Linked DNA regions of Homo sapiens: region 2 is linked to region 1. Evidence: fine-mapped expression QTL. A gene starts in region 1. The other region holds a variant in brackets. All regions are shown on one strand. Distances are from middle to middle. Region 1 holds the start of KIAA1217. Region 2 overlaps KIAA1217.

What was found. PIP is the estimated chance that this variant, and not a neighbour inherited with it, causes the effect.
Region 2: its variant is fine-mapped to the expression of KIAA1217 in esophagus mucosa (GTEx, PIP 0.90).

The regions. Positions count from the first base shown.
Region 1 is chr10:24,207,830-24,210,743 of GRCh38, forward strand. KIAA1217 reads left to right here and starts at 1,309. Exons shown (of 21, transcript NM_019590.5): 1 at 1,309-1,434. The coding sequence starts at 1,365. RefSeq lists enhancers at 1,495-2,694, 2,068-2,127 and a silencer at 1,728-1,777.
Region 2 is chr10:24,248,655-24,251,568 of GRCh38, forward strand. All of the region lies in intron 2 of KIAA1217, which reads left to right. Among named protein-coding and RNA genes, the nearest start is that of MIR603, 26 kb to the right of the region's middle. The variant G/A (reference allele first, on the strand shown) is at 1,456.

The DNA.
Region 1 (2,914 bases):
AATACGTCACCCCCACTGCCAAAACACACAGGTCACTCGAGGTCACAATCTGGAACATAGGCTGGCCATTGTTCAGCACACATTCTTGATCTAAATCAATCTCAAACCTTGCTGGAATGCCCTGTAAACTGGGGCAAAGTATGGTCACCAGACTAACCATTGTCCTTTTTTACCCCTCCTGTGACGGGGCTACTACAGGTTACAAAATCGCGCTCTTCCTCCTAGCTACTGTGTTACTCTGAGATATCTGACATCGCAGAGCTAATGTTGCCTAAATTATTTTCCCATCCTCTTTTTTTTTTTTTTTTCGGACATCATGCCTCCTATTTTCACTCTCTGGGAACTCTGCCAGTTTTTCAAGGACTGGGTAAAGAACAAAATAAATATTTGTAGGTGGTTTAAAAGGAGAAGTATGTTGGTTGTAACTCTGCCTGTCCAAAGAAATGCATTTTCACTGTCTTTCAGATTTTTGGAGTCGTTAACTGGGAGAGCTTCAGAAGATTGACTTTACTAGTTTACCTTTCAGATTTGTGATTAAGGGCTGGGTGTGTGTGTGTGTGTGTGTGTGTGTGTAAGTGTGTTGGGGGAGGGAGGAGTCTGAGAAAGTGAGCAAGTACGTAGAAACTTTTTTTTAAAAAGTCCAGATTAAGTGATTGAAATCGACTGTGTGCAAATGACGCTATACCTCTTCATAGATGTTAATCGGGCCCTAAAAAGTTAGTGCCGGAAAGTGCTTACTTACAACACTCAGCATATACTCTTTCTTTCAAATTGTTTGGGATTTTTTTTTAAGGGAGTTCACTGAAATTTGGGAGGTTCAACAGGTTGCTGTTTTTTAATATGTGGATCACCCGATTTGGGAGGCTCACTCTGCCTCTGAGATTAAAGAGATGAGGGCACTGGCTCCCAGCGAAGGCTCTCGGCCTTAATCATGTGTGAAATGTTTTCCTTCCTCGGCTGCAGAGCCTCGGTGGTTTGCAGCAGTGGAACCAGGCAGGCCCAGTTGTGGGTAGGAGAGGCCGTCACCTGTTGAGGCCTCCCCCCCACACCCCCGCATCGCCCTGCCCTGGCAGAGCCCAGCCCCCAGTCCCCGGAGAGCGCGCCTGAGGACGGACGGACGGACGGACGGACAGACCTAGGGACGGAGGGCCAGGGGCAGGGGAGATCCAAGAGGCCCCGCGCTGGAATGCAGTTTTCTCGGGCGAGGGAGACTTTGCACCGGAGTGGAAAATAGTTTGGGGTGGGGTTTCGCACCGTCCCCTCCTCCCCAGCCCCGGGCCCCCTCCCAGGCGCTTTCTGGGAGCTTTTAGAACTGCGCTCTGAAGTTTCCAGAGAGCGAGGAGCTTTTGCGGCAGGCAGAGACAATGGAAGAAAATGAAAGCCAGAAATGTGAGCCGTGCCTTCCTTACTCAGCAGACAGAAGACAGATGCAGGGTAAGTAACAGACCCATTCAAAGATGGAGTTACAGGGACGCGTGCCCCTTGCCGCTTGCTGCTTTTTATAAACTGCAGCTCTGGGACCCGGCAAAGGAAAAAAAAAAAAAAGGCAATTTCTTGGGATGGTACATTTTCCAAACTGAGTAGAGCATAGAGAACTGTGATTTCTTAGGCTTGACTTTATCTCTGGCACGATTTTCTTAAGCAGCAAAAGAGGTGGTGGGGTGATGTCACATTTGTAGTGCAGTGAGCCATCAGCATGAGCTGTATCTCTAAGCAATGACAAATAAATCACTAAGCAGCTTTTAATCATTTCCCCCCGGGGCTCCAGCCACGGGAGAAAGGAGCTGTTTTTGTGAAACTGTCTCTAGGACCGCAGCTTCCATTCATTGGTTGGGGGATTCCATGTGGCAGATGCATGCTGGCTGCAAAGTTTGTGCAGAATTTTAGAGTTAAATCACAGAAACCAGGCATGTTTTATTTTACAGATCCGAGCAGCAGGGGAGGGCTTGAGCATCTGGGTGATAGATAGAACTCTGGATCTTCTTTTATGTTTTAATTCAAAACTTGGGAGTTGTTGGACAATTTTGGTAAATTTTCTCCAGGCAGTTTCCCTTTAATTGTGTTTATAATAGACTTGTCTTTTCCGTAGGGAATTTCCAGAAGCTTATGTTGTTCCAAAGAAATTTCGCACCGGGTTGGGTGGCCAGAGGAGGTCCCTGCTCTCTGGCATCTGATGCCTGTGATGCCAAGAGCTGATTCTGTGGGATCCTATAGGCAGCATGTTCATAAACCACACAGCCCTGGACCACCCGCCCCACCCTCCCTCAGGTTCATGCAGGGGCCAGTACACAACAAAAAGACGTGCGGGAGTGCAGTGCTGTGCGTGGGAGTAGGGATTATGCACAGGGGAAAAGGTGTGTGTTTTATGAAAATGTGAAAGGGAAGTAACACATGACTCATCCACGCTGAAAATGCAAAGCTAAGCCAGTCAGGAGAACTTACAATGACAAGAGATAGAAATCCCCCAGTGAAATGCAGAAAACTTGAAGTTTTGTAATGGCTGGAGAATCCCTGAGTCTGAACAGTCATCTGTCGAAGTGTCTGCCTTCGTGCTGCCAAAGCACAGCACTCTCCTTCAGGCTACCGGGGTCAGTGGCATCCAGTGGAAGATAAGGCTACCTCGTCCCCCTGACCCCCGCAACCCCCCACCCCCATTTTCTAGGACAGGATCCTACTTCAGGAATTCAACCTCTGGGCCTGTCCTGAAAGAGATGACTCAGATTCTAGAGGGGCCATTAGAAAGGGATCCATTTAAGAAATGACTTTCCAACAATCAGGGCAATTCAGAGGCTTCAGAGGCTAGGATGGTCAGCCTGAGACAGTGTGCTCCTTTGCTCACTAATTCATTCATTCAGTGAATATTGAGCATCTGTTATGTAGACGTCACTGTTTTAGCTGCCAGACATCCAGTGGT
Region 2 (2,914 bases), 41 kb after region 1:
AGCAAGACTCCATCTCAAAAAAAAAAAAAAAAAAAAAAAAAAATGTCCCTCATACCTAAACCTTACCTCTTGCTAATTTGCTGAGGGTTCATTTTAGATAAAAGGTGTTTAGGTTTTCATATTATGTTTGTAACTGTATAGCTATGATTCAGTTTCCTAAATGAAAAAAGAAACTGTTTTAATGTACAGACTATTTAGATTTGAAAAGACTGTGAGAGCTTTTTCTTTTATAGCAAGACAAGTCAAGAATAGAAGGCACACTGCGAGAGGGATGTCTTTTGAAAGAAAAGAAACACTACTTTTTATATTCTCAAATCACTGAAGAAAGCTTTAGACATAATTTCAAACACTAGCTCCTGTTTAATTCAGATGCACAGAATGCATTAAAACCACGAGTGTAGTGGACGTGATTTATACATTCTCTTAGCACAAATCAGTACCTATCTTCACTGTAATTAGACTTTTCTTCCTTTCTCCTTCTCAAAAGCTACTTTTGAAACCTTATGTTTTCCCTGGACATATTTTCTGTACTTCATAAAATAGCTCAGTTCTGCAACTAACTGCAAATATTTGCAAAAGGGAACAAATGTAAAATAAACGTCCCCTAATGCAGTGTTTGGTGAAGAAACATATGTCTGACATTAGTTGGTTAACCTGAAAAATAGTAAGAAACAACTCTACTTAGGGGAAAGGGGGTAGAATTGAGCCCGTACTGTGCAAATCAAGAGAAAGCTATAATTTACGCAATTTTTATTAAAGAGAATACAAGTGCTGTAGGCTTGGGGTGGTGCTAGGTCATATTTAAGCCTAATTGAGCTTTTTCTATATCATTAGAAAAATGGGCCAAGTTTCCTATATTATAGGGTAAATACAACATTTTCTTCCTGCAAATATTAAATACCACTGGCTTTTTAAGACGTAAACATCCAAATCTCAAATGTCTTTATTCATGCCAATGCAATACAATAAAAATATTCCCCATATACACTTAAATCACTGCAAGTAAGCCTTAGAATCCCCACAAGTATTATTACTTACTATATCTCAGAAACTTTCACACACATTATTTCAAATATAGTTCTCCCAAAAAAACCCTGCGGAGAGATACCTGTAAACCAAGGCTGAGACTAGCCTAGACAGTTCGTTCTTTAGACAACAGGAGTGGAGATTTGAACCCAGCTATTGTGACTCAAGCAAGCCTAGGGCATGTTTCTGAGATCTCTAAGGTGTGCGCTGTGAAACCGGTGGCTCATTTTATGGGTTGGATTTCCAAACACGACTATCACAATCATGCCAGGAATCAATGACTGACTTCTTGCCTCCGTGGCCTGAAGTTCTCCTCTGCACCTCCTACCTTTTTGCCATTTCAGTGATGCACCAAAGGGTGGAGTTGAAGAACATCAGTTTTGCTGCTGCTTGTTGGCAATACTCTCAAAAAGGCGTGGGGAGGGAGAG[G/A]TGTAACTCACCCCTGAAGTCAAGCCTGGAGATTACTTGTCAGGAATGTCAAAAGCATTTGTTAAGCAACCTTCTTCCTGGCATTTTAAGAAGAAAGCCGCATACATAGATCAAATCCCTTCCTTCAGAAACCTGTACTCTCTGAACAGAGCCTTGGAATTCAGCCTAGAGAAAGAATACTTGGTGGTTCATAGAACTTGGTTCACAAAAGAGTGCTTGCTGCCCACGCATTTTGCACAATGACTCCCAAACACACAGAATGCACATTGGCAACAATTTTACGCGTGTTTCCAAAAGTGCTGACTGGAATTGAAGGGACACATTTGGCACTTTTTTTTTTTGAAATGGGGTCTCTCTCTGTCACCCAGGCTGGAGTGCAGTGGCGCAATCTCGGCTCACTGCAACCTCCACCTCCCAGGTTCAAGCGATTCTCCTGCTTCAGCCTCTGGAGTAACTGGGACTACATGTGCCTGCCACCACGCCTTGCTAATTTTTTTTTTTTTTGTATTGTTAATAGAGACGGAGTTTCGCCATGATGGCCAAGCTGGTCTCAAACTCCTGACCTCAAGTGATCTGCCCACCCCCCGCCCCTCGGCCTCACAAAGTGCTGGGATTACAGGCGTGAGCCACTGTGCCTGGCCACATTTGTCAACTTTCATTGGTCAATGATTGATGCAAGCCAGAATAAGAATAGATTGGGCCGGGTGCAGTGGCTCACACCTGTAATCCCAGCACTTAAGGAGGTCGAGAGAGCAGATTGCTTGAGACCAGCAATCTGAGATCAGCCTGAGCAACACAGGAAGACCCTGTCTTCACAGAAAAATGAAAAAAATTAGGCCAGGTGCTATGGCTCACACCTGTAATCACAGCACTTTGGGAGGCTGAGGTGGGTGGATCACCTGAGGTCAGGGGTTTGAGACCAGCCTGGGCAACATGATGAAACCTGTGTCTACTAAAAATACAAAAAATAGCTGGGTGTGGTGGTGCACCCCTGTAATCCTAGCTACTCAGGAGGCTGAGGCATGAGAATCACTTGAACCCAGGAGGCGGAGGTTGCAGTGAGCCGAGATCACACCACTGCACTCCAGCCTGGGCGACAGAGTGAGACTATGTCTCAAAAAAATTAAATTAAAATTAAAATTGAGCCTGATGTGGTGGCACATGCCTGTAGTTCCAGCTATGCAGGAAGTTAAGATGGGAGGATCCCTTGAGCTTGGGAGATCAAGGCTGCAGTGAGCTGTGATTGTAACTACTGCATTCTAGCCTAAGAAACAGAAAGAGACACTGTCTCAAAAAAAAAAAAAAAAAAAAAACAAGAAAAAAAAAGAAAGAAAAAAACAGATCAGAGGCCCTGGCCTGGGGTCAGTTTCTCCAGAAAGGCCTGCACAATGGAGTTTTCATGTAAAAAATTTCTTACATCCTGATTTTAAAAAATCAGATGATCAGGAAACATTGAGTT